Homo sapiens: one gene and its partners. The protein of the gene in region 1 interacts with the protein of each later gene in a pairwise test. Each region holds a gene or a part of one and is shown in the gene's direction. Other genes may lie near its edges. The genes, in order: TTC23L, FAM161B, USP20 and EFHC1.

Region 1 (7,763 bases):
GGAAAAAATGGTAAAACAAAAAACTCACTAAAATTTTGTTTCCATTTAAAAATATGTTCCTGTTTAGAGAAGCTTTGCCTTCGATGCAGATTGAAGCATATGAAATAGAGGAAGGTGTCATATTTCTTTGTAAGTAGCAGAAAACAAAGCAGAGCCTACTTAGGTAGCCAGCCCACCTTCTGGTTCCATGCATGGTTCATTGTCTGTTCCTCCTTGGGGCATTTCTGGTCCTAGCTTTAAACTAAAAATTAGGCCAGGTGCAGTGGCTCATGCGTGTAATCCCAACACCTTGGAAAACCGAGGCGGGAGGATCTCTTGAGGCCAGCGTGAGTAACATAGTGAGACCCTGTCTCTACAAAAAAAATTAAAAATCAGCCAGGCATGGTGGAGGGAGCCTGTAGTCCCATCTACTTGGGAAGCTGAGACAGGATAGCAGCTTGTGCCCAGGAAATTGAGGCCACAGGGAGCCCGTGATTGTGCAACTGCACTCCAGCCTGGGTAACAGAATGAGACTGTGTCTCTAAGAAAATAAAGTAAAAATTTGAAAAACCTAAAAATTATCATTTGATTGTTTTTGTTGCTGTTACCTTTAACTTAAAATTAAAAAAAAAAATAGCTGGGCGTGGTGGCTCACACCTGTAATCCCAGCACTTTGGGAGGCCAAGGTGGGCAGATCACCTGATGTCAGGAGTTCAAGACCAGCCTGGCCAACATGGTGAAACCCCATCTCTACTAAAAATACAAAAATTAGCCAGGCGTGGTGGCGCATGCCTGTAATCCCAGCTACTTGGGAGGCTGAGGCAGGAGAATTGCTGGAACCCAGGAGGCAGAGGTTGCAGTGAGCTGAGATCATGCCATTGCACTCCAGCCCGGGCCGACAACAGCTAGACTCTGTCTCAAAAAAAAAAAAAAAATATATATATATATATATATATATACACACACATATATATACACACACATATACATATATACGTATATATACAAATACATATATGTGTGTATGTGTGTGTGTGTGTGTGTGTGTGTGTGTGTGTGTGTGTGTATCCATCCTGGAAGGTTTCAGGATGCTATCTCTTAGGTAACAAAAAGGCTGGGATAGTAAGGCAGGAGGTTGAGAACAGGTAGGCAGGCAGGTCTAAGCTCTGGCCTGGAAAGGATATGGGTAAGATGCCCTTGGTTACAGTGGAATCATAAACAAACCAAAGGGCCAGAAACAGAAGGTAGCAGTGGAGGTCAAAGATTCCAAATATGCATTTCTAAGAGCAAGTCAAAGACTTGAGTCAAAGATCTCAGAGCAGGTTTGTAAGCATGAGTATTCAAAATCCAGGAGACTGAGACAGCAAGACGTCGACTCTCATTATTAGAACACAGGCACCAGCCTGCTTCCAGAGCATGATTTATCAACAGAAGAGCTTGTACCTTGACTTCCTGGCTCCTCCTAGCCAAGGGGAAAAAAGTAATCTAGAGAGGTTTCATTTTCTATCATTTGCCTCTGAAGTATCTCTCTAGATGGATATTTGTAAATTTATCTCTGTAAATGACCCAAGGACCTTGCAAAGGACAGTCATCCTGGCCTGGACCCATTAGTGATTCACAAATCCAGGCTAGAAGGATCATTTCTAAAAACACACAAGTACCATCTGCCATGGAGTGTAAGTGGGGGTTTTCAAGGCTTAAAAACTCCTTGGCCAGATTGGATAATGACAAAGATTTAGATCTTAGGAGAGAAATCTGACTCAAATCCCAAGCTCATCAAATTGTATAAAGTGAACAGGTGCAGTTCTTTGTATATCAGTTATAGCTCAATAACGCTGTTTTTTTTTTTTTTTTTTAAATCAAACCCAACCTAGTACTCCTAGCCCTGAAGGGCAGGGGATGCCACATCAGCAGCAGAAGTGCTGGGATGACATCTGGAGCCCGTATTGGTTGTCCCGGTTTCTCCAAGTCAAGGAGTTCGAGGATGAATATACAATGTCCAGAGCCAAAGCTTTGGTCTCCCATTCCAGTGATTTTTTCATGGCATGATGCTTCTTCCTCGAAAGAGAACTTAGTATTTGCTGTGGTCAGCCCATGGTGAACTCTAAAAAATGCTGACTAAATGGATGTTTTGGAAGCATCAGGGGAAGTTTCCTTCTACCATTGCTTGCTTCTGTATATTTGAGCAGGGGGCAGGTAAAACATGAAGTTGGGTAGGAGATAGGAATCAGTAAGGAGTGTATTCCTTGGAATAACCTATGGTACTGCTGTATCTTATCTAACATTACTCTTTAAATGGGTTACTTTGGTTACCTGTACATTATTCTTCAAACGGGTTACACTTAGATCTGACCTAACAACACTGAATCATTTGGACACTATTTTTTTTTCCTTACAGTAACTCCATGAGGTAGATGGTACAGGTTTCCAAACCTCAGAAAAGGAAGCTGAGATCAAAGTGGCCTGCCCCAAAGCAACACAATCAGTAAACAAACATTAGAACCAGGGCTGAAACTTTAGGTTTTTGGTTCCTTGAAGTGCTATTTTCACTTAACCAGGAAAAAAATGCCTGACCCTATCGACTCGTTCAGCCAATAATGGCTGTGTTTGTAAAGTCACTGAAATATATGACTTGAAGATACAGTTCGGTGATTTCTTAGAGAGCTCTACCTGTCATTTCTATAGGGGTAGAGGATTATTTTCCCCAACCCATCTTTAACCTTGCTAATAAATGATTCATTCAGCAAATATTGAATGTGTTACACCTGTGTGTACTGGGCAGATAACAGCGAACATGAGGAATAAACTTCTGTCCTCAAGGGACTTATCTTCTATTTGGGGAGATAATAGACAAACAATAGTAATAGCTAATAAAATATTAGATAGAAGTAAGTACTATGAAGAAAAAGTAAAATAGGTAATGGGATATTGAGTGATGAAGTGGTGTCTATTTTAGATAAGGTGGCCAAAAAAGGCCTGTTGATAAGAAAAGTGAAAATGAAATGAGAAAGTGAATGACATGGAAGAGTGTCCCAAGCAGTGGGAGCAGCACGTGCACAGCCCTACATTGGAAGTTAGCTGGTGATGTTCAGGAACCGCTGGTCAGTGTAGTTCTAGCAGACAGAGTAGGAGGAAAGGGTGGTAGAAAATGAAGTCCAGAGGTGATTGGCATTGGGTCAGATTATGCAGAGCCTTGGAAGCCATGGTGAGGACTTTGAATTATATTAAGAAGAAAAAGCGGGAAGCTGTTGGAGGATTTTGAACAGGAAAGTCATGATCTAATTTATATCTTAAGATATAAACACATAAAATACGTTTTAAAATCCATAAGTTTCTAATAATAATAACAAGCTATTTGATCACAATTAGAGGATGCTAGTGAACAATTCATTTTTCTGAAAGCTAGTAAAGGGCAAGAATAAACCATGTGTCCTGCCTTTCCAACATGAACTGTACTATTGGGTAACCAAAGAGTGGAGGAGGAGAAATTCTCCTTACAGAATTATTCCAGCTAATGTATGAAGAAGGAATGATAGAATTAGTATATTTGCATTTTATAATCTTTTGTTAATTTTCCATGTAGTTTTCCTAATATCAGAGAAAAAAAAGAAAAAACAACCAGATAGTAGATGTATTCTGCTGGAAGAACATACCAGTAGCCATGAAGTCGTTTTGTAAAAAAAAGAATTCAAAGCTGAAATTAACCAAACTTCTAAACCCAACTACTAATATAAAGGCAGAACAGAGAATGGAGGGACATGATGAGACACCATGAGGACGCAGTCATCAAAATTTATGTCTGTGGGAAATACTAGACCAAATGACTCAGCTTTTTCAAATAATTCGTAAGAAAAAGAACTAGAGATGGAAAAGTAACCTATAGATGAAAAGAGACTGATCTCACAGTGTGGACAGTCAAACAAATTATTTAAAAAATTCCATTTCTGTGATTAGATAAGGAATTATTGTTAATATTTTGGTGAGATAATGATTTTGTGGTATGTTTCTAAGTCCATATCTTTTAGAGGTATTTACGAAATGTTAACAGAGGCAACAATGGAATGTCTGATTTGCTTCAATTTAAGGTGAGGATGGGTGGATGAGGGGTCTAGATATGAAACAAGATTGGCCAGGAGTAGATCACTGATCACGCTACATATTCATTTTTCATGCTGTCTGTTTTGTATATTAATAAAGTTTTTCATGATAAAAGGTTAAAAGAAGTCACTCTGGCTATTATGTAGAAAGTAGACTGTGAGGGCCAGAGAGGAAGCAATTGGAAGGGGCTGCTGTGGCCAGCCAGGTCAAAGGTGAGGGTGGCCTGGACTAGGTACTCATGGCAGAAATGAGGAGAAGAGCTTGGTTTTAGGATTTAGGGGGAATGTGGATCCAACCAGACCTGATGGATTAGACACAGGATGAGAAGGAAAGAGAAGAGAAAAAAGATGACAGGTGAATTCAGTCCTGTGTTCCAGTGATAAGTCCATGGGGTAGAGACTTCTCTTCCTTTCCAAAAAGTATAATCACTTCTGTACTCTACAGAATACTCAAGCAAACAAGGAGCTGATTCGATGTGTCATCCTTTCTCGGATTATTTTTGGGGACCATCACTGGAAATGTGCACGAGCTCTGGCCAACCTAGCTTATGGCTACTTGACACTGAGAGGTACTTGGTTTTCCCAGCTGGGTTTGGGTGGCCAGCCTCTGAAGGCTGAACTGACCCACACAACCTCAGTGAGGATGGGCATGACTAGGAGGGCCCCTTCTTGCCCCTAGCTCACACATTATCAGGAAGGAAAGTCCATGGATGAGGGAGACAGTGTGCAAGGATCTAAGTAATAAAGATAATAATGATGATGACAGTTATTGAGTATTTAGCATGTGCCAAACTGGTCTCATTAGTCCTCACAATATTCCTTGGAGGGAGATACTATTAGTAACCTCAGTTTATGGATGAGGACACTGGAGCACAGTGGGCAAAGGGCAGTATCAGGGGTTCCAGCCGGAGGACAGTAGGGGAAGGACAGGCAGGGATGTACACTCAGCATCAGGGAGGCAGACCCAATAATGGGACTTGAATTCCAAAGGTAGAACTCAAGTTCCTGGAAGGTTTGGCTTAGTGAAAGGTAGGACCCTCATCCTAGAGAAATGGTACTTCTGGAAGGTACTCTAGTATAAGAGAATAAGACAAGAATCTATTTGCTAAAACTGAACCCAAGTGAAAGTTCCTTGAGAGTAGAAAGTTTGTAGTACAGGCTGAATAAATATTGGGTGATACACTGAGGCGAGAGCGCATTTCAGGAACCAGGGACATAGCCAGCTCAAGACTCTCTGTTCCTTGACCAGCCATGTCCCCCTGTGTGGTCTGCATACATTTTCACCGTGGAACTCATTGTACTGTGCTCATATATGCTTTAAATGCTTCTTCCTCTGACATAGAAGCTCCCTCAGGGCGGGACTGGTCTCATTTGATCTAGAACAGTCCTTTGTACACAATATGGTTTGGCATATTACTGCTTATGAACTGAGCCACTGGCCTAGGGGTTGTTCAAGTACCTCTGGGACCTCAGTCTGAAGGGGGGCCTAACTTGTAATACAAATTAAATGCTTTATGGGCTTAAGTGATTTGAAGGCTACAGGAAAAGGGAAGCAATATATTTGGGCCATAATGAGGCTGGATATCAGCAAAGCTTTTGAAAAAATTAAAATTGAGTTCACTTCTCAGTTATTGATCTCAGAATATATTCTCCTTCTTAGGGCTCTATAGGCCCTTTTACACCCATTTATTTTTAATGCAACTTTAGATTCATTTATTGATGTGGCAAGATCACAGGTAGCTGAGATCACAGCATTAGGACAGTGATGCTGTGGGTCACAGTGGGGGCACAGCGAGGCCCTTTTATGCTTTAAGAACACGTGTTGTGTTCTGAAAGAAGGTGCTATGGCTAGGGAGAGGAGAATGTCCTTATGTACTGGCAGAGCAGGCAGCCACCTCTATGAAATTTCAGAGTGACCAGGAAGGATCTTCCCCTAGTGGCGTTCCGTGCTTCCTTACTTGGAATCTCTCTATTCCCATCAGACTGATTTTCTCAAAAACTTACTGCCTTCATGATAAGAGTCAAATTTAGGGATTTACTCCTTCAGTACTTATGGAGTTCTTGTTATAAGCCTGGTGGCACTTGCAGTCAGTGCTGGGGATACATAAATGAATATTGGTGGTCCCTATGCTCTAGGAGCACACAGGGGTCTTATGATAGGTACCATTCTAGAGGTAGGAACAAAATTCTGGGGAGGCAGTTCAGTGGTATTGCCATTGAGGAAAGTCAGGGAAGGCTGCCGAGAGAAAGTGATATTTGTCCTGTCTTTGAAGAATGAGAATAGGTTTATCAAGTAGATTTTTTTACTTTTTATATTTTTATTTTTGTAGAGATAAGGTCTTTCTACGTTGCCCAGGCCGATCTCAAATTCCTGGCCTCAAGTGATCCTCCCACCTCAGCCTCCCAAAGTGCTGGGATTACAGGCGTGAGCCATGGCACCTGGCCCCCAAGTAGATTTTGAGGGGAGAAGTAGAGAGTACAAAGTTGGTCCTTTATATATGTTGATCTAAGGCATAGGAAGTGAGAGGAGGGCACTCTGTATAAAACTCGTTACACAGAATATTGTAGCTTCTCTGTAGACCCAGGGGGTTAAGGTAGGACGGAAGACACCTTAGGACAGACAGCTCATGTTTGGAAATGGGACTGAAAAGGTAATTTGGGCCCAGATATCAGGGAGTGTGGAGAGTTATTAAAAGGTTTGAAGTGAGGTGGTAATAATCAAGCTTGTGTTATAAAATGAGAGACTCCAGGATGGGTTGGACTGGGTAGAGAAAGAAGAGGCAAAGACCAGTTAGGCCGTTATCCTGCCCAGATGAGAGTCGATGAGGGCATTGGGTATGGCAGTTGGAATGAAGAAAGATAACCTAAAATGTAGAATGGGTGACATTTAGTGCCCCATTCAGTATGGAGTGGGAAGGACAGGGAAGAATTGAAGTTGAAGTAGGCATGACCTGGACAATTAGCTTAAATCGAGAATGAAAGGGAAAGACCAAGTGGTGGGGTGTATTAGTCTGTTTTCATGCTGCTAATAAAGACATACCCAAGACTGGGTAATTTATAAAGAAAAAGAGGTTTATGGATTCACAGTTTCATGTGGCTTGTGAGGCCTCACAATCATGATGGAAGGCCAAGGAGGAGCAAAGGCACATCTAACGTGGCGGCTGGCAAGAGATCATGCAGAGGAACTGCCGTTTATAAAACCATCAGATCTCATGAGATGTATTCACTATCACCAGAACAGCATGGGAAAACCCTGCCCCTGTGATTGAATTACCTCCCACTGGGACCCTCCCATGACACGTGGGGATTATGGGAGCCACAATTCCTGGTGAGATTTGGGTGAGGACACAACTAAACCATATCATGGAGGAAGGGGGAAGAAGCTACTGAGTTTGGTTTCTGAAAGCAGGTCTAGAGCTCAGGAAAGATGTTAGTCTGGGAGAAATGAGCACATAGGAGCAAGTTGAGGCCATAGGAGTGGATGAGCTTGATCAGAAGTAGTGTGTAGTGGCTGGGTGTGGTGACTCATGCATGTAATCCCAGCACTTTGGGAGGCTGAGGTGAGTGGATCACTTGAGGTCAGGAGCTGGAGACCAGCTTGGTCAACATGGTGAAACCCCGTCTCTACTAAAAATACAAAAATTAGCCAAGTGTAGTGGTGTGTGCCTGTAATCCTAGCTACTCGGG
Region 2 (7,763 bases), on another chromosome or scaffold:
GGAAGCATTTCCTAAATACACTTTCCCTGAGAATGACAACAAAGTACCTTTATCTTGGTCAAGCCTTAGAAAGTAAATATTGAATGAGATAAAGTGTACATTATCTCATTACTTTATCTTATTTAATATTTACTTTCTCCTCCAATAACCTGGTAAGTAGACATTAATTTTTGCCACTCTACATAGGAGGAAATTGAGGTTTTAACAGAACTTTGCTCAAAGTTTGAAGCAAGATTTAAACCCAGGTCTGTCTGACTCTAAAGCTCTACTCTGCTCATTGTTCTCTCTCTCATATGAAATATTAGAGTGCAAAGTGGCAGTTCTTGGATCAATTCTGAGAAGAGACTTTCCATTAGGGCTGCCAGGATTGTCTGTGGGAAGGTCATGGACATAGAGGCCTGTGGGGCTGTGGTGTTAGGCTGAGCAGCCAGCTGTGACCAGTGGGAAGGGAGGACTGGGGAGGAGGTCTGGAGGGAGCAGGGCCTCCTGACTGCCCTGTCCTCCACTCACAGATCTGCTTTTTTCCCAGGTGTGGCTCCACAAGGCGCTGCAGCTCCCTGAACAACCTTCCCTCCAACATTCCCAGGCCTCAGACCCAGCCACCCTCAGGCTCCCGGCCTCCCTCCCAGCACAGAAGCGTCAGCTCCTGGGCATCATCCATTACTGTCCCTCGGCCATTCCGCATGACGCTGCGCGAGGCCCGGAAGAAGGCCGAGTGGCTGGGCTCACCTGCCTCCTTTGAGCAGGAGAGGCAGCGGGCCCAGAGGCAGGGTGAGGAAGAGGCCGAGTGCCACAGGCAGTTCCGGGCACAGCCTGTGCCTGCACATGTCTACCTGCCCCTCTACCAAGAGATCATGGAGCGCAGCGAGGCCCGAAGGCAGGCAGGGATCCAGAAGAGGAAGGAACTGCTCCTCTCTTCTTTGAAGCCCTTCAGCTTCCTGGAGAAGGAGGAGCAGCTAAAGGAAGCTGCTCGACAGAGAGACTTGGCAGCCACAGCTGAAGCCAAGATCTCCAAGCAGAAGGCCACCAGAAGGATTCCCAAGTCCATTCTGGAGCCAGCCCTTGGGGATAAACTCCAGGGTAAAGACATCCTTGCCACCTTGCTGCCTCCTGCCTCGGGGAACCAATCCCACCATAGGGATTTAGTCAGGGCCCAGGGATCTGCCTGGCTTGGAGATTTGCTGCTTGGGTGGACCCACTAGAGGCTGCACGCTTAGTGCAGGCCATTGGGGAGGGTTAGGTCTGTCTATACAATCAGGACCTGTATGGTGCCAGGAGTGAGAGGTCCCACAGTGTCCCCAAGGCTCGTCCTGTTGACATCTAAGTGAATGCACATGAGGGCCTCTGCACCAGCACAGGTGCAGGAATAGAGAACCAGTGAGACACCTGAGGACCAGCTTGGGCTCATGCCACCACCAGCACACTGCCCTGAGATGCTCCCCCATGGCTCCTTCGTCCTGGTGAGGTAGTGTCAATCGCCGAAATTACCTGGGGGATGATTATTTACACATTTCCAAAAGTATAGCTCCAAATAAGGGGCTCAGGCTTTATTCACTTTTCGGTAGCATGTGCCATGCTCCAGGCACTGTGCCATGGTGAACACACAGACATGGAGTTTGTAGATATGTGAGGAAAACAGATAAAGACAAATACATACAAATGTGGCGAGTTATTTACAAGGATTAAAAGGGGAAGCATGGGAGCATATATCAAAGGGACCTAACCCGGGGATTGGTGAAGCAAGGGAGCAGTTAGGGAAGGTCCCCTGAGAAAGTGGGCCCTGGGGCTGAACTGAAGGAGGGGCGAAGAGGGAGGAGAAGTGGAGCAGGCAGAATGTGGCATGGAGGGGAGAGAAAGCAGAGCATCTGCAAGGGATGGAAAGGTCGAGGGCTGAGAGAAGAGGGAGTGGGAAGGAAGAGGCAGGCATGGGCCAGACATGAGGAGCTTTGCAAGCCACGTTGGCGAGTCTGGACTTCATCCCAAGGGCACAGGGAAGCCACTGAGGGAGTGAGGCAGGGTGGCCCATGATCAGAAATATAGTTCAGAAGGATCCTTCTGATTGCTGTATAGATAATCTGAGAGGGCAGCAAGACTGGAGGGATGTTGAGCCAAGAGGAAGCTATTTCACAATTCAGTAGAGAAATTGTGCAACTGGTTGCAGGGATGAAAAAACGAGGATGGACTGGAGAGAGGTTAAAGAGGAGGAAATGACAGAACTTGTGACTGATGAGAGACACGGAGGAGTCAGTGATGTGGGCAAAGGGCCTGGGCAGCTGGGTGGATGGTAGGGCCTTTCTCTCAGATGGGGAAACCTGGGAGAGGAGCAGGTTACTGGCCCACTTCCTCTGCTTCATCTCTGAAGAAGCAATCATAGAAAGTGCTCAGTAAGTGTAGATGGTCACTGCTTCTGCAGCCTGATTGACACAGGCAGTGGTGTTCTGGATGACATTTATTAACAAGCTCTCCAGAAAAAAAAAAAAGGAAGCTGGTTTGTAATGTTTGTTATTTTCTGTGGCATAATTACTCCTATTCAGGCCATCTGCAGGCATCTCACAGGATGTTAACGTGTCAGAATTCCTGAAAAGTTCCTACTTGCCTCCAGTAACACTTACAGCTAGTGTGTAAAAGAGGGAAAGTTCTCCAACCCTGTAGGTTTCTTGCTTGGTCCTTTCTTACCCATCACCATCCTTTCTCCACAGAAGCTGAGCTCTTCAGGAAAATTCGCATCCAAATGAGAGCCCTGGACATGCTCCAGATGGCCTCTTCCCCTATCGCCTCCTCTAGTAACCGGGCTAACCCACAGCCCCGCACAGCCACCCGAACCCAGCAGGAAAAGCTTGGGTTTCTGCACACTAACTTCAGATTCCAGCCTCGGGTGAATCCTGTGGTCCCTGACTATGAGGGCCTTTACAAGGCCTTCCAGAGAAGAGCAGCCAAAAGAAGAGAAACCCAAGAGGCCACTCGCAACAAGCCCTTCTTGCTGAGGACCGCCAACCTGCGCCACCCTCAGCGGCCCTGTGATGCTGCCACCACCGGAAGGAGGCAGGTGAGAGCCCAGGCAGCTGTGGGAGGGTCAGGGCTGCGGCCTGAAATACAGGGTGGGGCCAGGTCTTCCTGGAAAGCACTTCTCAACAAGGTTTTCCTATCTTTTTTTTAAACACCAGCTCAGTTGTAAGCAGATTCACTTTCCTATAAACTCCAGACCACAGCCCAGCCTGGGCAACAGAGACCCCATCTCTAAAAGAAAAATACAAATATTTGCCACATGTGGTGGTGTGTACCTGTAGTTCCAGCCATTCAGGAGGCTGAGGTGGGAGGACCTTCTGGCTGCAGTGAGCCAAGATGATGCCACTGTACTCCAGCCTAGGCAACAGAGTGAGACCCCATCTAAAAACAACAACAAAAAACAGGCCAGGCGTGGTGGCTCACGCCTTTAATCCCAGCACTTTGAGAGGCCGAGGAGGGCAGATCATCTGAGGTCAGGAGTTCGAGACCAGCACGGCCAACATGGCAAAACCCCATCTCTACTAAAAATACAAAAATTAGCTGGGTGCGGTGGCGGGCACCTGTAATCCCAGCTACTTCAGAGGCTGAGGTAGGAGAATTGCTTGAACCTGGGAGGCGGAGATTGCAGTGAGCTGAGATTGTGCCACCGCAGGCCAGCCTGGACAACAAGAGTGAAAGTTCATCTCAAAAACAGAACACAACAGAAACCATAGGGACACTTCTTTTCCTCCCTTACTGTAGAAGGATTTCACAGAAATAAGTCCAAGCAGGCTTGAGAGGCAAGGAGTTGGGATCAGTTGTTGATGTCTCTATACCAATTCCAAGGAACTCTTCTCATTTGACTAAAAACTTTAGGATTGATATCCAAGTCTTGGCTTGGTTGTGAAACTTGAGATCTCTTTATCCTTGCCTTATTCCCAGGAAAAAAAATGAAGATTCTCATTTTCAGTCCTTCAGTGAAGCTGAATCCTAGTAAAGATAGAAAATGGCTGGGCGCGGTAGTTCACACCTGTAATCCCAGCACTTTGGGAGGCCGACACGGGTGGATCACCTGAGATCAGGAATTCGAGACCAGCCTGACCAACATGGTGAAACCCCGTCTGTACTAAAACTGCAAAAATGTAGCTGGGCATGGTGGCTCACAACCTGTATAGTCCCAGCTACGTGGGAGGCTGAGGCAGGAGAATTGCTTGAACCAGGCAGCTGGAGGTTGCAGTGAGCCGAGATTGCGCCACTGCACTCCAGCCTGGGCAAAAGAGCGAGACGAGACTCTGTCTCAAAAAAAAAAAAAAAAAAAAAAGATAGAAACTAATCACACATGCTGTCCCACCAATACCAACCTTTGTTTCTTCTAGGATTCCCCACAGCCACCAGCTACACCCCTGCCAAGGAGTCGTTCTCTGAGCGGCCTTGCTTCCCTCTCTGCCAACACTCTCCCTGTGCACATCACAGATGCCACCAGGAAGAGGGAATCTGCAGTCAGGTGAGTGGTCAGGCTGCACGAGACCCATGCTCTGATTCTGGCCCCAAATGCTGGAAACCTCCCTGCCAAGGGGCCTCCTTTCCTGTTATCAGAGATACCTCAAGGGGTCAAAGGGAATTTTCTGATCAGGACTGGAACAATTGCGGTTCTCCACACCTGGTGCTTGGAGAACAGCTAGCCATCATTCAGCACATATTCATAGTGGGCTTATTCTGTGCCAGGCACAGTGTTAAGGCTGGAGATCTTAGGGAACCTCCAGTTTATTATCTAGTCTGAAATACAGAAAAGCAAAGAAGCAATGGCCATATTTTTTGAGTAGTGCAATGATGGGGGGTAAAGGGGACTGTGAGGGCACTGGGCAGCCTGGAGCAGGGGGGTCTTGTCTTGTGGAATAGATGTCTAAAGTGAAACTGAAGAACAAGGAAGAGTTCGCCAGACAAAGCCTGGAGAGAAGGAAGGTTCCAGACAGAGAGAACATGGATAAAAGCCCATGGGTGAGAGGAAGGGAGTAGTGAGGAACAAGAATTCAGAGAAGCATGCTAGCAGGTGGCTGAAGTTGCCGCAAATATGAGACATCCATTGCATAGATTTGAGATTCTCTGAGATTCATCTTGGGAAGATGTCAGAGTCTGTTGGGCAGCAAGAGCCTGCTTATTTTTAACTCTTCAACTGACCTGATTCTGTTATGATGTTCTCATTAAGCCAGCCCCCAGCAAGGGTTCTTCCACCAGGCTTCTGAGCTGAAGTAGGCAAGAGAGGTCATGGTGTAACAGCAGCTTAGGCCAGGGAGAGGACTAATGTCTTACTGCCTTCCCATGGGGCATGTAGGGGAGTACTCAGAACCTACTTGGATCGTTAAGCCCCACAGCAGGGATTGTAGAAGAGTATTTACGGTCCAAGGGATACTCCTTTCTTCTTCAGACTTCAGTTAGACCTACTAAATCAGGGCTAATTAATTGCTCAGTATCCTGAGGGCCCAAGAACACAGGCCTCCTGAACAAAGAGGCTGGCCTTCCTATAGAGGACATCCACATCTGCTTTCCAGCCACAGGGAATCTGACATATTAACAGATTAAATTTTCATGTCCTTCTTCCCAGTATGTCCATTTGAATATAAACATCCAAATATAAGAGTCTTGGTTGATTTTCCTTTTGGAAGAACTCAACATATTACTTTGTAGATAACTGAACAAACTAAGTGCTACAAGTTGAACCCAAATAGTCTGCACTGAGGGAGGCTCATTTCCAGTTCTCTCTGAATGTGCAGATTTGTATTCCCAAAGGACCATGAACCCAGACACCTTCCAGCCCACTGTTTCCAGCAGAGTGGTCAAGGCCAGAGGCTTCGGAGTCAGAGGTCCTGGTCCAATAGGGGCTTTTCCACTGGCATGCTGGGTAGCTTTGAGCAAGGGGCTTACCTCCTTTGAGCCTCAATCACCTCCCCTATAAAAAGGGAATTTAGTATTTACCTCATAAGGCAGTTATGAGGACAATGTGAAATGTAATGGTACTTGGTTCATAATAAGGAGCTCAGTAAATGGTAGCTATTAGTATTATTTTGTATCCAGATAGGCGAAGACCTATTGAATGTTGGACTGTTTAAGTAAGGATATATATATTTTTTTTCGAGACAGAGTCTTGCTCTGTCGCCCATGCTGGAGTGCAATGGCGCAATCTCAGCTCACTGCAACCTCTGCCTCCCGGGTTTAGTGATTCTCCTGCCTCAGCCTCCCAAGTAGCTGGGATTACCGGCACGTGCCACTACACCCAGCTAATTTTTTTTGTAGTTTTGGTAGAGACAGGGTTTCACCATGTTGACCAGGCTGGTCTCGAACTCCTGACCTTGTGATCAGCCCGCCTCAGCCTCCCAAAGTGCTGAGATTACAGCCATGAGCCACCGTGCCCGACCTAAGTAAGGATATTTTAACTGACGTTTCTCCAGTTCAGTAAATGCACTTCTAGGGTAGGAACTCACTGTGTCCCTAGTGCTGGAAAGGCTTCATCTGCCAGTGCATTTAATCCTAGAATTTTATTATTTTTAAAAATGGCAGTTGAGGTAAATTACATGCCCCATTCATTAAAAACACCAACTTACTTTCCAGAAAAGGTTACTAAGATTGCTTTATTTTATTTATTTATTTATTATTATTTTTTGAGACGGAGTCTCTCACTGTCGCCCAGGCTGGAGTGCAGTGGCACGATCTCGGCTCACTGCAAGCTCCGCCTCCCAGGTTCATGCCATTCTCCTGCCTCAGCCTCCCGAGTAGCTGGGACTACAGGCGCCCACCACCGCACCCGGCTAATTTTTTGTATTTTTAGTAGAGATGGGGTTTCACAGTGTTAGCCAGGATAGTCTCGATCTCCTGACCTTGTGATCCGCCCGCCTCGGCCTCCCAAAGTGCTGGGATTACAGGCATGAGCCACCATGCCCGGCTATTTTATTTTATTTTATTATTATTATTATTTTTGAGACGGAATTTGATCTGTCGCCCAGGCTGGAGTGCAGCAGTGCGATCTTGGCTTATTGCAACCTCTGCCTCCCGGGTTCAAGCGATTCTCTTGCCTCAGCCTCCCGAGTAGTTGGGATTACAGGTGCACACCACCATGCCCAGCTAATTTTTGTATTTTTAGTAGAGCTGGGGTTTCACCGTATTGGCCAGGCTGGTCTTGGACTCCTGACCTCAGGTGATCCACCTGCCTTGGCCTCCCAAAGTGCTAGGACTACAAGTGTGAGCCACCACACCTGGCCTAAGATTGCTTTTCAGTATACCCAGGTTGGTAATCTATACTCTTTTTCTGCCTCCTTCCTTTAGAAGTGCACTTGAAAAAAAGAACAAAGCAGATGAGAGTATTCAGTGGCTGGAGATACACAAAAAGAAGTCTCAAGCAATGTCCAAATCTGTGACCTTGCGTGCAAAAGCCATGGATCCCCATAAAAGCCTGGAGGAAGTGTTCAAAGCAAAGCTGAAAGAGAACCGGTCAGTGTCCTCTATGTGTCAAAAGGGGTGCTTGCCTTGGGATCCAACAGACCACTGGCCTATTGCCAGAAAATGCAAAATAGAGTTATCGAGGTAGGTAGGCTCCTGTAATCACAGCAGGGTCATGATTTTCCAAGTCAGATAGGAATTTACAGTGTACACGAGAGTTACACTGCTTTACTGGAAATGAAGGGTATTCTGGATTAGAAAAGATGAAATTCTTTCTAAAAGTCTTGCTAATTCCAGGAACAATGACCGTAAAAGAGCGAAAGAATATAAGAAAGAACTGGAGGAAA
Region 3 (7,763 bases), on another chromosome or scaffold:
GTGGGGCCGTCCTGTGCATTGTAGGATGTTTAGCAGCATTCTTGGCCTCTACCCACTAGTGCTAGTGACAACCAAAATGACCTCCAGAGATTGCCCAGGGTCCCCTGGGGTGCAGAGTACCCTCCCTGCCCTGGGTGAGAACCACTGGGCTCTACAGACTGCCCAAGATAAAGCAGGAAGTGAAAACCAAGGTGCAAACCAGGACTCAAGTGTGACTGTGTTTAGAAGAGGGACTTCTGTGAGGGAGCTGAGTGCAGGCGAGGCTCCTGGCGCACTCCCTCCCTGCCACGCTACTTCTAACAGGGTTAGGACGTGTTCCACTCACAGGGAGGGCCTGGTGAGAGACACTGAGGGACGCCCGTGCTTTGTGGCCATTAGGAAATGATTCTGCTGCCTGGGCATGGTGGCTCACGCCTGTGATCCCAGCACTTTGGGAGGCCGAGGCAGGTGGATCACTTGAGCCCAGGAGTTCAAGACCAACTTGGCCAACATGGCGAAACCCCATCTCTACAAACAATACAAAAATTAGCCAGGCATGGTGATGTGTACCTGTAGTCCCCGCTACCTGGAGGGCTGAGTGAGTTGGGAGGATCACCTAAGCCTGGGAGGTTGAGGCTGCAGTGAGCCGTGATCATGCCACTGCACCGCAGCCTGGGCAATAGAGTGAGACCCTGTCTCAGAACACAAACGAAAAAGAGACTGTCAGGGCTGGGCCTAGTGGTATGCACCTGTGGTCCAACCTACTCAGGAGGCTGAGGTGGGAGGATCACTTGAGCCCAGGAGGTCAAGGCTGCAGTGAGCCATGATTGCGCCGCTGCACTCCCGCCTGGGCACAGAGTGAGACCACCCCCCATCTCGAAAAAGAAAATGCTCCTGTCAGAAGGAGAGCTGCCTCTCTGAGCAGATAGGCACATTCTATTCAACCGGAGAAAATTAGCATCTCCCAGGCCGGGCGCAGTGGTTCATGCCTGTTATCCCAGCACTTTTGAGAGGTCGAGGTGGGCGGATCACCTGAGGTCAGGAGTTCAAGACCAGCCTGGCCAACATGGCGAAACCCCGTCTCTACTAAAAACACAAAAAGTAGCCAGGTGGTGGCACACACCTGTAATCCCAGCTACTCAAGAGGCTGAGGTGGGAGAATCGCTTGAACCTGGGAGGCAGAGGTTGCAGTAAGCCGAGATCGCGCCACTGCACTCCAGCCTGGGTGACAGAGTGAGATTCCTTCTCAAAAAGTAGAATCTCCCTTGTGGTCTCAGTTGGGTCAAACAGTTATTGAAGAGACCCACAAAATGTTACCACCGTCCTCTCTGAGTGATGGGTGTGTTCATTTTGTTTGAGCTTGTCTGGGGGTTTGATTTTTCACCTTGAGTATCTGGTGTTTTTGTAAGACTCTTGGGTGAGGGACTGGGGCGGGGGCATTTGGGAAATCCTTGCTGAAGGTAAATAGAGACTGACCTGCCCTCTGTCTCCTCCCGTCCCTGCCCGCCTGCCAGTTGAACAAGGCCTTCCAGGCCGAGGAGTCGCCGGGCGTCATCTACTGCATCAGCATGCAGTGGTTCCGGGAGTGGGAGGCGTTCGTCAAGGGGAAGGACAACGGTGAGCTGAGGGGGGACCTGGCACTTACCTGCCCTGGGGGCCTCCTGGGAGATGGGATGCTGGCAGGGGAGGGCTGGCACACAGGGGCTCCTGCAGGCCCCATGCCTGCCCCCAGGTGCCACCCATCCAGGGTGAACAGAGAGCATGGGGCTTTGCCAGTCCCCAGTGGGGATCACTGTCCCCACCCAGAGGCAGGAAGCTGCTCCTGCTCTGCGCCCCCTGCCCTTCTCCACTCCCTGCCATGCCCAGCAAGCTGCTCTGCCCTCCTGCAAGGCCCTTTCCTCAGGGGAGTGTGTCGCCCGAAATGACAGATTTGTCATCTGACTCCTTGGATTTACAGAGGTGGAGACAGGCCCCATCACAAGCTCCCAGGGTCCCCCAAGTCCCCAGTGAAGAACAGCAGAACCAAGCCATGGAAGCCCACAGGCTCTAAACTATTAAACCTGCATTAAAAATTTCGGCTGGGGCGCCCTCGGGGCATAATCTAACCTGTGGCTCCGGGGCCCGGCAGGGTGGGTAGAGCCCACGGTTCTGCTCACGGGACCCTTGGTGTGGAGCATGAGCACCCACCTGTGCTTGGGAAGGGAGGCCTCATTGCCATCCCGCTAGTCGGGGAAGGTGCCAGGGCCACCGTGAGGCCTCTCTGGTGGTGGCTGAGGCCTTCAGCATGGCTGTGGTTGAGAATGTAGCTCCGGAGCCCTCGCCCTGGCCTGGACGCTGGCCTTGCCTTCTACCAGCTATGACCTGAGTGGTTACTTCACCTTCCCAGGCCTCGGCTCTGTCTCTGTAAACCTCTGTCTTGTCCTGTGGTTGCCGAGGCTAAATGAGATAGCTGGGCAGAGGGGAAGGGGCGTGGTGAGCGGCAGCTGCCAGCAGAGATAAGGGCATGGGCCATCCACCGCAGCTCCTGCGGCCAGCACAGAGTCTGAGACCATCTCGTGTGTCCTGGAAATTCCCTCTGCTGGGTCCTCAGACTGCCACAGAGGAGCATTGGGTGGCTCAGGCGCCTCATCCATTAGAGACTTCACGCTGACCCCCAGGCCTGGGGCGGCCCCACTTGGGATGGCTCTGCTGCTGTGGAGGGTGGAGGGCATGGCAGGGGCTGAACCCGAGCCCGCTGTGTCTGTTGCAGAGCCCCCCGGGCCCATTGACAACAGCAGGATTGCACAGGTCAAAGGAAGCGGCCATGTCCAGCTGAAGCAGGGTGAGTTCCCCCTGGGGTCAGCCAGGCTCCTCTCTGCCCTTCCTGGCTGCCAGGCTGCTGCCCAGTCCCGTCCTTCCAGGAGCCCCCTTACCACCTGTCTTAGAGTCAGGCTGAGACGTCCACCTGAGTCCAGACCCAGGCGGCTGAGAGATGGCCCAAGGGGCTTGGTCTCTGCTTGTGTCCTCCAGGTCCCACCCCTCTGCCTGCTGCTGGCCTTGCCCACCCTGCTGTTTATGTCAGCCCCACCCCCAGGAACAAGGGACACAGCCAGAGATGTGTTATCCGGGGCCCTTAGCGGGATGGACATTCCTCTGGGAAATCCTGATTTCCATCTGACAGCTTTGCATAGAAGCCCTGGTTGCCGTCTTCCCGCTTCGGGGCCTGGCCCTGCGGAGCCCCCACTGCCCAGGCCGGTGGCTTCCTTGAGGAGGCAAAGGTGAGCCTAGGGGTGCCTCTCGTGCCCTGCAGGAGCTGACTACGGGCAGATTTCGGAGGAGACCTGGACCTACCTGAACAGCCTGTATGGAGGTGGCCCCGAGATTGCCATCCGCCAGAGTGTGGCGCAGCCGCTGGGCCCAGAGAACCTGCACGGGGAGCAGAAGATCGAAGCCGAGACGCGGGCCGTGTGATCTGCTGGGCTAGTCTGTAAGTCGCCCCGGCTGGTCCCTCCATGGCACTCTGGGTCCTCTCCTCACTCTCCAGAGACCCTCACATGTCCTTTTGAACATCCAAAGAGCAGGTCCCTGAAAGCACCTTCCTGGAGGATGTGGGAGGGCCCTGGACATGGCCCGGCCCCACTGCTGAGTGCCCGTGTCCCCACAGCCCCATGTGCCCCACCCCGCGGAAGGCGTGTTTGTGCCCAGAAGAGAGGCCGGGCTGCTGCAGAACCCCGCCGTGTAAAGAGGCAGAAAAGTTGGTTTGGTTTGCAGTAACGCTGCAACTAGAAAATATATGCACTTCAGGCTTGTTGAAACGACCAAGACTCTGTGACGTTAATTTGGGTCTTTGTCCTGGCAGTGCCTCTGCCAGTCACTGTCATCGTTGTGTCCCCCACAACTGTCCTCTTGCTAGCTCGGCCCAGCTTTGTCCCTGGAGCCCGATGCTACCCCTGTCAGACAGAGGCTGCGGCCTGGGCCAGAGTCAGGGAGTAGCTGCTGCTTCACGGCGTCTCCACTGTGCGATTGGCCCGGAGCCCCGAAGACTCGGAGGGAGCTGCTCAGGGCCGGTGAGCGCAGCCAGAAGCCCTGGCCAGTGAGGAGCTCACAGGTCCTCCCTGGTGGTCCCGCCGCACCTCTGCATCTCCTGGGCGTCACCAGGAAGGCTCTGAAGTCCCGGGCTGCTCTCAGCACTTCTCCTGCAGACTGAAGACTCTGGACTCATTGCTGATTGGAACACCAGGAGGAGGTTGGATTTCTGCCAGTGGGGGATGTTTCTGGAGGCAGCTGGTCCCCCACACCGCGTCCTGCTGAGCCTGCCCCCTGGATTGGCTGTAATTTGCCTCGAAGTTCAGCAGTTCATCTTCATGGGAAATTTGCTGAGCCCCCACCAGGGAACCGGATGATGAAACAGGGATACCTCACAGCTTGGCCATTTGAGGCAAAGGCAGCTTCCCGAGCTGATGCTAAAGAAGACAGACTTTCCCTTCCTCCCAGCAGCAGCAGTGCAGAGCCCACCTGGAGGGATGTGGGGGCTGTGCAGGGTGCAGCGCTCAGGTGGATCCTGGGAAGCAGCCTCTGGATGCTGAGTGGAGGGAGCCACTGAGCACAGCAAGGCACCAAAGCCCCTGGAGAAACCGCCAGGGCGAGGTGCGACCATCATCAGGATCAAAGCAGACGGGGCGTGGGTGGGGAAGGGGCTCTGGGACCAGACCCCCCACACTACTGCGTCTTTGTTTCTATCAGTCTTTGTAGAAGCAGGTGGTGGTGGAAATTCCAGCAGGTGGGTCCCGCAGAGGCCCTGAGGCCTCACTTTTCGGATCTTCTGTCCCAGATCCTGCTCCCTCCCTGCTGAGCCTGGGGTTCCCCTGGCATTGGCCCCAGCCTTCTGAAAGCCGGCGCTGCAGCCAGAGGCCGCACGCTGCACTGTCGCGACGCAGAGAGGCTTCTGTGCAGGCTGGGATCGGGCCCCATGTCTGTGCTGTCTAGTTTGTGTTCAAAATGTCAGAATAAACACAGAATAAATGTTCCCACGGCCACACAGTCGTCTCTCCTTCACTGCAGTTCTGTTACTGGAGGGAAGGTGAGGCTCTCCGCCACGCGGACAGCCCGCCAAGCCCTGGGGCTCACATTGCACATCACCAGGCCCAGGAGGGGGCTTTCCATGTGGCTTTCTGAAACCAGAGACCACCTGGAGGCTGTGGAGGTGAGCAGAAGAGGGGACCCAGCTGCTATAAAGGCCTATTGGCATCTCCTTTCCTGGAATCAGCCCCAGCCTCAGAGAAGTAGGGCCAGATGTGGCCAGTGATTGAGGCCAGCACATCCCACAGGCTAGTCTCCCTCCAGCCACCCAGACAGGCGGCTCCAGAGTGGCCGTGAGCAGGGGGTTACCTCCCCTTTGCACACTGGCCCTGGGCGTTCAGCAATACTGGTGTTCAGTAGTCTGAGTTTTTTGTTGGGTCTCATTTTGGGGGAGAGAAGAACTTGAGATTTTTATATATAACTTATCAACATTTATTTGTGAAATCCCATTGTTGCAGGAAAAAGGGGTTCCGATCCAGACCCCTAGAGAAGGTTCTTGGATCTCATGCAGGAAGAAACTCAAGGTGAGTCGCAGAGTTCACTGAGAAGAGTTTACTGAAAGCTGCTCAGGTACAGAGTAGAGCGTCCTCAGAAAGCAAGTGGAGGGATGCCCGTCGCTGTTTTCAACTCCTCTTATGTAGGGGTCTTAGCTATAGAAAAGCTACGCTGTGTCTGTCAGGTGGGCTGACAGCCTGACACAGTGGATTGCTCTGTTGATTTAAAGAAAGCCATCCTTGGCATCTTAGTGCATAAGCACATCGAAGCCTCACTGTGGTCATCTTCAAGCATACACTGTTGTGTGGCATCTGAACCTTCTCCATCGTAGGAGTTTGTCCTCGCAGGCGTTACGTAGCTGCTTCCTCAGACGTAAACATCTTAGGTTGTGACTGGCCTGGACTGTGCCTAATTTTTTGTTTTTTGAGATGGAGTCTCGCTATGTTGCTCAGGCTGGGGTGCAGTGGCACGATCTCGGCTCACAGCAACCTCTGCCTCCCAGGTTCAAGCGATTCTCCTGCCTCAGCCTCCCAAGTAGCTGGGATTACAAGCATGTGTCACCACATCTGGATAAGTTTTGTATTTTTAGGAGAGACAAGGTTTCACCATGTTAGCCAGGCTGGTCTCGAACTCCTGACCTCAAGCGATCTGCCTACCTCGGCCTCTCAAAGTGCTGGGATTACAGGTGTGAGCCACCGGGCCCAGCCTCCCTTGCTAGTTTTAGGTGGAGCCGAACTCAAAATGATGTCACCCTGGCTCCCCTAGGCTTCTGCTTCCCTGCCGCTATCAGATACGAGCGTACAGAAACATTTCAGCGTATGCAAGGATAACACGGTGACAAGGAACCAAGATGACACATTGCCAGTTCCATGGAAAGCCTGGGGCCCCTCCGGAGTCGGCCACCTTGCCTGACCCCAGAGGTGGCTCTTTGCATGTGGTTCCCTCATCCCGCCTTTTTTTTTTTTTTTTTTCCTGAAAAAAGCTTCATTTTATTATTATTTTTTGAGACAGAGTCTCACTCTGTTGCCCAGGCTGGAGTGCAGTGGTATAATCTCAACTCACTGCAACCTCTGCCTCCTGGGGTTCAAGCAATTCTCCTGCCTCAGCCTCTGGAGTAGCTGGGTCTACAGGCATGTGCCACGACGCCTGGCTAATTTTATTTTTTATTTTATTTATTTTTAGTAGAGACGGGGTTTCACGGTGTTAGCTAGGATGGTCTCGATCTCATGACCTTGTGATCTGCCTGCCTCAGCCTCCCAAAGTGCTGGGATTACAGGCATGAGCCACCACACCCGGCCAAAACATCATTTTAAAATTGAGCTTTCTGACTGTGCTCCTGCCCTTAACACCTTCCCAGCAACTTTCTGCTCCTTGATGAGGAAGGCACACTTGATCCTGTCGGGAACACGTTCACACAGAAGCACCAGATGCACTGCTGATGGGTTTTTTGTTTGTAGACAGGGTCTCACTGTGTTGCCCAGGCTGGCCTCGAACTCCTAGGCTCAAGTGATCCTTCTGCCTCAGCCTCCCAAAGTGCTGGGATTACAGGCGTGAGCCACCACGCCTGGCCGCTTGCTGACATGTTTTTGCTTTGGGGCAGTCTCATAGGAGCTTTAGGTCTCACAGCACAAACCCCTCGGAGTCAGCCCAGGCCCATGCCATGTGCAGACTTTGGCAGTTTCCCAATCTTGGTATAAAGGTAAACGATTCTCTTCCCAGGGGTTCGGGCCGGCCTAGTGCTGTTAGAGGCTGTATTCTAGGAAAGCCTATGACGGTTTGGGAAACTGGGCCATGCTGAGTGCCTGTAGACAGCGTTCCCGGAAGAGGAAAAAGCAACCTTTGTCTTTATGTGGGAATCTCTAAGCAATATTTTTGGCTTTGTTTACATTTGAAGGTTAGATATGTGTCAATCCACGTGATTGACATTGAACATGGAAAATGAGAATGAAAGTTTTGTCTGGAAGATTTATTTAGGAGGTTTGGAGACAGTTCTTGCACTACAGAAAGGTGGGCTGGAAATAGGTACCAATTTGCCTTAAAACGTTTCTTTTAAAATACCTGGCTTTTAAGGAGTTCAGACTGAGATGCCAAGATCTGAAGTCTGTGCTTGATTACTGAGCAGGGACAGGAAGTGCTCGGTGACTGGGGAGGCGGGGCTCAGGCCTCGCTCCCCACGGTGCCCCACGGTGGCTCCTCCTCCGCGCTAAGCCAGGGCGTGGCTTCAGCAGCGC
Region 4 (7,763 bases), on another chromosome or scaffold:
AGCCTTCACACGCTGCTCTGCCCGTCTGAGTGGGAGCTGCAATCTAGTCCTACCTTCCATCTGCCATGATTCCAGGGAAACTTTCCAAAGAGCTTTTCTACATTAACTCTTCTATCCCATTCATTCTTTGTGGGAGGAGCACAGAACTCTTAATTCTGTTCTTAATAAATAGATAAGTGCCTTTTAAAAATTAACAATTAAGTAATTCTTTTCGGTTAGCATATTCTTTACCTGAGACCATATATATATATATATATACATACACACATATAACAAGACCATATATATATGTGTATCTCCTTGCCTCCCATTCTCAGGCCAACTTCCTGTTGCCATAGGCATTTTCATGCCCACCAATCTTAGAAAACAGATGGTTTGGGAGCATGGCTGTGGCCACAGACTTGATCTTTGGTTATCTTCTCTGTGATTCTCTTCTCACTCCTTTGGTGAGTTGTCCAGGTTCATGGCTTGAAATGTCCTCTTTATGATGATAAGTTGTCCTCTAAACATATGTATACATAAATGCCTATTTGCCATCTCATCTTGAATGTCTAATAAATATCTCAAATTAAGCATATCTAAAACTGAACTCCCAATTTTGTCTTCTTACCCCCAAAATCTGTTCTGCAGCAATCTTCTTCATATCAATTTGATAGTAATTCTATGCTTTCAGTTGCTTGGCCAAAAATGTTTGCATTATCCTTGAATGTTCTGTAATATTTACTTCTTCCCCTAAACCCAGTCCTGCAGTATAAATTACCCCCTGCAGTATACAACTTGTGCTGTCACTTAAATTCAGTAAGTCTAAAATCAAACTCACCATCTGCCATACCCAAATTATCTTCTCCTTATGTTTACATTTCTATGAGATCACCACTATATCGCCAGCACTGGGTTTTCCTCAACACCTCATCTGCTTCCACCTTCCCACTTCCTTACTATCAATCCAGTCAGACTTCTGCTTTTCCATTGCTGGTAATTAATTACTGCAGACCTGGACTATTGAAGGGGCTTCCAGTCTGATTGCCATGCCTAGTACTTCCTCCTCCATCATAGCCTGCATACTGCTGCTGGGTTTCCTTCCTCTGCTTCTGTTATTACCACTGCTTAGAAGCCCCCCTTGTATCCTCTGCTGATCTAAAATCTTTCACTCTTCAAGTCTAATACATCTTTTGTTTCCTCCTAGTTAAGCTTTCTCTGACCACTTTAGTCCACACAGATTCCTTCTTGGAACCACGATAGCATTTGTTACCTGAGAAGTAGCAAGATGTGTGGAGAGAATATTGGGTTGTGAGTTAATAGTCTGAATTTCAGTTCCAGTTCTGGCCCTAACCCCTTACATGGCCTCAGGCACGCCACCTTACCACCCTGGGTCTCAGTTTCCTCCTTTATAAAATAAGTGGGGTTGGGCTAGCTGATCAGTTCAGCTTTAACATTTTATGTATTTATAAATATATGGCTCAGATACAGGCCATTTTATATATGAATTACTATGATCATGTCCCCCCTTTCAGTTCTTTGCAGTTGATCTAAAATGTTACTTCAACATTATCTGTCCTTTGCTTTTACCATGTTATTTTTCTCCTTCAAACATTCCACTGCACTTATCCATTTTATCTTTTTATTATGAGTTTTAAGGCCTTCATTATATTCACATTTCTCCTATGCACTTGTATGCACTTGCCAGTTCTCTTGGTTTTTATCTTGTTTTTCCACAGTAGTTACGCTACCCATTTTTTTTTTTAGCAACAGTGTCCGTGTATAGAATTATTTCATCTTTCCATTTATCAAGCCATATTTCTGTTTCATTTAGGATCTTCTTGATTTGTTCCTCTTATTCTAGTAGAGGCTTGGGTAAACTATCTTGCCTGCTTAGAATCCCATTCTAATACTTTCTCTCCTTGAAAAGACACATTAAAAACAGAGACAAAATAACAGAAATTTAAAAATCCCAAAGCATGTTAACATATTCTTTTTATAATATTGTTTTATGCTTTTTATTTTTTATTTTTTTGAGATGGAGTTTCACTCTGTCACCCACGCTGGAGTGCAGTGGCGCTAACTCAGCTCACTGCAGCCTCCACCTCCTGGGTTCAAATGATTCTCCTACCATAGCCTCCCAAGTAGGTGGAATTACAGTTGCCCACCACCAAGCCTGGCTAATTTTTGTATTTTTAGTACAGACGGGGTTTCACCATGTTGGCCAGACTGGTCTCAAACACCTTAACTCAGGTGATCTGCCTGCCTTGGCCTCCCGGTGTGCTGGGATTACAGGCGTAAGCCACCACGCCTGGCATAGTTTATGTTTTTTAAATGTGTAATCTATATATTGATACCATGTTGACTTCACATTGATGATGATGCTCCCCAGAGGACCAATGGTTTGCTCAATGTAATATATATGTTCCTGAGCACAAGGAGGGTATTTACACACGTTTTAGAGATTGTATAGCGGATTGATGATGAGGGTATGTACACACCCTTCAAAGATTCTGTAGTGGATTGATGATGTGAAAGTCATTCATATAAAGTTTATAATAATGAACGTAATTAATATACATTTACAAAGGACTACACTTCTAAAGAAGTGCAATTAACCCTTCATTTTCAGTTTGAAACCAAAAATCGCAATCTTATCCAAGATTTTTTACTCTTCCCAGAAGTTCTGGGAGGGACTTTTGACATGGAGGTGAAGCTAGTAGAGTTAAGTCCTTTAAGATGTATTCTCACCAAGGAACATATGCAATAAATAGTTTATACACATTGTGAGTATTTAAAGCAGATGTCAGCAAACTTTTTCTGTAAAGGGCAGTTAGCGTATATTTTGGCCATTGCAGTGGTTTTAGCCTGCGTAGTCTGCCACAACAAAATACCACAGATTGAGTGGTTTAAATAATAGAATTTATTTTCTCACAGTTCTGGAGGTTGGAGGTCCAAGATCAAGGTGCCAGCTGGTTTGAATTCTGGTGAGGGCTCTCTTCCTGGCTTGCATACAGCGGTCTTCTTGCTATGTCTTCATGTGGCCTTACCTTGGTGTGTACATGTGGGAGTTAGGGGAGGGAAGTAACTCTCTTTCTCTTCTTCTCTTCTAAGGCAACCAGTTCTATGGGATTAGACTTAAAGGTGGCATACCTCTATCCTTAAGATCTGGTTTAACCTTAATTACCTCCTAAGGATCCTGTCTCCAAATATAGTCACATTGAGGGTTAGGGGTTCAACATATGAATTTTGGGGATGAGGGGGACACAATTTAGTCTGTGTATCTCTGTCACAACTATTCAACTCTTCCCTTGTAATGGGAGAGCAGCTGTTAACAAAAAAGCGTAAATTATTTACATAATTATTTGTGGATTGAAAATTTAAATTTTTATAATTTCCATGTGTTATGAAACATTTTTTAAAATTTTTTAAACCATTTAAATATGTAAAACCCACTCTTAGCTTGCAGGTCATAAAAAAAACAGGTGGCAGGTTAGATTTGTCCCATGGACTATAGTTTGCAGTATCTGTAGTTTTAGAGTATCAAGATTTACAGGATAGAAGTGATGAGTGTTAAAATCTCCCTGTGTGGTTCTGTTTTCAGGAAGGTACTTGATATTTTTCAGATGACTATGACAAGCTAATAGTACACCATTTCTCCTTTCCTTGTATGTTATAGGTACTGAAATTTGATGCCTATTTCCAAGAAGATGTTCCTATGTCAACTGAGGAACAGTATAGGATCCGTCAGGTGAACATTTACTATTATCTAGAAGATGACAGCATGTCTGTCATAGAGCCTGTTGTAGAAAATTCTGGAATCCTTCAAGGCAAGTTAATAAAACGCCAGCGGCTAGCCAAGAATGACCGGGGTGACCATTACCATTGGAAAGACCTAAATCGAGGAATAAACATCACAATTTATGGCAAAACTTTCCGCGTTGTTGACTGTGACCAATTCACACAGGTATAGCATATATTTTTGAAAGTTGTGGGGTCTGAGGCATCATTCTAATTTATAGAAGGATACATTTCATTTATTAGGGTAAGGGGAGGACATTGGTAATCTGTCCTGCATGAATTATTATGAATGGCTAGGTATTTGCATGTGTGTATGTGCTAATATGTGCCAACACTAATAGTAACATAATTTTTTCAGAATGATATTAATACTTATTCACTCAAAATCAAACTCTCATCATAGCTGAATAATTTGGTAAGAAACCAGGTTAAAATGGCAGTTCAAACAGGGAGTAGGGGAATAGCATCCCTGCTGGGATGTAAGTATGGAAGAGGGATTAAACGTTTTATCTTAAGTGTGAGTTTACAAAAATAGCACTACTTCTATTAGCAGATATGAGCCTAAAATTTTTTGTGTAGCTCATATATTTTTGGTAAATGATACTTGCTATATTCTAGGAAAGCTTACCATCTAAAGAATTTCTGAAATGAAACCATTTTTAAATGAAAAAACCTCTTCTATATGTAAAAAGTCCTCTATTTCGTAAGTTTGGATTTTTTAATACAAAGGAAACTTTTATTAAAGTTACATGCATAGAGGATATAGGTGGCCTTTCTTTACTACAAAGTGTAGGAATTAGGAAGTCAATTCCAAATTTGTCTTAGTTAAAAAAATATTTCTAGCAGCAAAGATATAGTTTCTGAAGTATTTTATGTCCCTATTCCAGGATACCTAGTGCCATATGTGACTAATTTTTACCATGCACTGAGCTCCTATGAATCCATTATTGTTTTCATTTAGTAGTTTGTTTAACAGATATTTATTTGCATGCCTGCTTTGTTCCATGCACTGTTCTAGGTGCCAGATGTTTTCAGGAAGGTACTTGATATTTTTCAGATGACTATGACAAGCTAATAGTGCACCATTTCTCCTTTCCTTGCATGTTATAGGTACTTGCCCCTATAGAGGTTCCAATCTTGTTGGAGGAGATAAGCAATAGCAAATAAATAGATTGGTTATATGTCAGATGATGATAACAGCAATGGAGGAAAATAAAGCTGAGTAAAGGGAATGGAAGTTGAGGGGCTCTTTATAGAGGCGGATCAGAGAATGCCTCAGTGATAAGATGACATATGAATAGAGGCCTGAAGGAAGTAAAGAAAGGAGCCATGGCATCAGTGCCATTCCAAAGCAATAGAGAAAAATAGCTTCAAAAGTAGAGGTGCTAGACCATCTTTGAGATATTCTCCCGTTCCAACATATTTTTATCTCTTTGCTTTTTAGGTGTCTGAGGTCTTATATATCATAGGCAGTTTCACAATTGTACCAACAGTGAGAAATGATAAAATGTTATCTAAACATAAATGTATTAACAATTATTTTTACAGTTGTGTTTTCATAACAATTATTTTTACAGTTGTGTTTTTATGGGCAATTTGAACATTTGCAAGTTAATCACTGAGCGTTTGACCTAATCTATTTATAGTCGGTTCTCATTATTGACAGTAATTAGGACTATAAAGTCACCACAAACACTGAATTAGTGAATACTGAACCACTAGTCTTAGAGGAAATACAGGGTTAGGTTCCCACTAATCTCTGGCCACATTTTTGTCAACTGATCAATACATAAGTTTGATTCATGTATGTTTCTGTTTAAAGACACCTTATTTAATATATACGGTTGATTCATTAACATTAAACTCACACCCAACAGCACTATAACTCACGTCTGAACAAAGCTTATCTAAGACATGCATTTTCTCCATGAGGTGTGTTACAGCCTTCTTGTGCTTAGGAACACTAAATAGCACTTCATCACTAGGCACTGGGACCCTTTAAACAGCAAAATCACCAACAAAAAACACAAAAATGCAAAAAATCTGGCACCTTCATGTATATGTATATGTATGTGTATATGTATCACATTTTCTTTTTCCAGTTTACCATTGATGGGCATTCAGGTTGATTCCATGTCTTTGCTATTATGAATAGTGCTGCGATGAACATACTTGCGGGTATGTCTTTATGGCAGAATGATTTATATTCCTTTGGGTATATACCCAATAATGAGATTCCTAGGTCAAATGGTAGTTCTGTTTTCAGGTCTTTTAGGAATCACTACACTGCTTTCTACAATGGTTGAACTAATTTATACTCTCATCACCAGTGTATAAACATTTCTTTTTCTCCACAACCTTGACAGCACCTGTTATTTTTTTACTTTTTAATAATAGCCATTCTGACTGGTGTGAGATGATATTTCATTGTGGTTTTGATTTGCATTTCTCTAATGATAGTGATGTTGAGCTTTTTTTTCATATGGTTATTGGCCATGTGTATGTCTTCTTTTGAGAAGTGTCTGTTCATGTCCTTTGCCCACTTTTTAATGGGGTTCTTTGCTTTTTTTCTTGTAAATTAAAGTTTCTTATAGATGGTGCATATTGGACCTTTGTCAGATGCATAGTTTGCAAATATTTCTTTCCCATTCTTTAGATAGTCTTTTTACTCTGTTGATGCTTTCTTTTGCTCTGCGGAAGCTCTTACGTTTAATTAGATACCATTTGTCAATTTTTGCTTTTGTTGTGATTGCTTTTGGTGTCTTTGTCATGAAATCTTTGCCCATTCCTATGTTTAGAATAGTGTTGCCTTGGTTGTCTTCCAGGGTGTTTATAGTTTTGGGTTTTACATTTAAGTCTTTTATCTATCTTGAGTTGATTTTTATATCTGGTGTAAGATATATGGCTAGCATATGGCTAGCAGGTTATCCCAGCACCTTTCCCCATTGCTTATTTTTGTCAACTTTGTTGAAGATCACATAATTATAGGTGTGTAGCCTTATTTCTGAGCTCCCTATTCTATTCCATTGGTCTATGTGTCTGTTTTTGTACCAGTACTGTACTGTTTTGGTTACTGTAGCCCTGTAGTATAGTTTGAAGGCAGGTAACATGATGCCTCCAGCTTTGTTCTTTTGCTTAGAATTGCCTTGACTATTCAGGCTCTTTTTGGGTACCATTGAATTTTAAAGTATTTTTTTCTAGTTCTGTGAAGAGTGTCACTGGCAATTTGATAGGAATAGCATTGAATCTGTACATTGCTTTGGGCAGTATGGTGACTGTAAAGATATTGATTTTTCGTATCCATGAGCATGTAATGTTTTTTCATTTGCTTGTGTTATCTCTGATTTCCTTAAGCAGTGTTTTGTAATTCTCATTGTAGAGATCTTTCATCTCCCTGGTTAGCTGTATTCCTAGGTATCTTATTCTTTTTGTGACAGTTGTAAATGGGATTGTGTTCCTGATTTTACTCTCAGCTTGGCTGTTGTTGGTGTATAGGAGTGCTAGTGATTTTTGTATGTTGATTTTGTGTCCTAAAATTTTGCCGAAGTTGTTTATTAACTTAAGGAGTTTTTGGGATGAGGCTCTGGAGTTTTCTAGATATAGAATCATGTTTTCTCCAAACAGGGATAGTTTGACTTTCTCTCTTCCTACTTGGATGTCCTTCATTTCTTTCTCTTGACTGATTGTTCTGGCCAAGACTTCCAATATTGTCTTGGATAGAAGTTGTGGAAGAGGGCATCCTTTTCTTGTGTCAGTTTTCAAGAGGAATGCTTCCAGCTTTTCCCTGTTCAATATAATGTTGGCTGTGGGTTTTTCATAGATGGCTCTGATTATTTTGAGGTGTGTTCCTTTAATACCTAGTTTATTTATTTATTTATTTTATTATTATACTTTAAGTTATGGGGTACATGCGCACAACGTGCAGGTTTGTTGCATATGTATACATGTGCCATGTTGGTGTGCTGTACCCATTAATTTGTCAT

What was found.
Region 2: the proteins of TTC23L (region 1) and FAM161B interact in binary tests that used the Homo sapiens proteins (3 or more experiments, as listed by UniProt).
Region 3: the proteins of TTC23L (region 1) and USP20 interact in binary tests that used the Homo sapiens proteins (3 or more experiments, as listed by UniProt).
Region 4: the proteins of TTC23L (region 1) and EFHC1 interact in binary tests that used the Homo sapiens proteins (3 or more experiments, as listed by UniProt).

What each region holds. Positions count from the first base shown.
Region 1 is NC_000005.10:34,845,664-34,853,426, forward strand, and holds part of TTC23L (tetratricopeptide repeat protein 23-like), read left to right. Parts: coding exon 1-10; intron 11-4,521; coding exon 4,522-4,645; intron 4,646-7,763.
Region 2 is NC_000014.9:73,937,652-73,945,414, reverse strand, and holds part of FAM161B (protein FAM161B), read left to right. Parts: intron 1-529; coding exon 530-1,080; intron 1,081-2,699; coding exon 2,700-3,046; intron 3,047-4,361; coding exon 4,362-4,489; intron 4,490-7,302; coding exon 7,303-7,467; intron 7,468-7,713; coding exon 7,714-7,763.
Region 3 is NC_000009.12:129,876,845-129,884,607, forward strand, and holds the end of USP20 (ubiquitin carboxyl-terminal hydrolase 20), read left to right. Parts: intron 1-1,493; coding exon 1,494-1,596; intron 1,597-2,728; coding exon 2,729-2,800; intron 2,801-3,268; coding exon 3,269-3,429; 3' UTR 3,430-3,445; exon of another isoform or gene 3,446-3,622; 3' UTR 3,623-4,984; downstream 4,985-7,763.
Region 4 is NC_000006.12:52,434,646-52,442,408, forward strand, and holds part of EFHC1 (EF-hand domain-containing protein 1), read left to right. Parts: intron 1-3,658; coding exon 3,659-3,946; intron 3,947-7,763. UniProt on the Homo sapiens protein: Microtubule inner protein (MIP) part of the dynein-decorated doublet microtubules (DMTs) in cilia axoneme, which is required for motile cilia beating.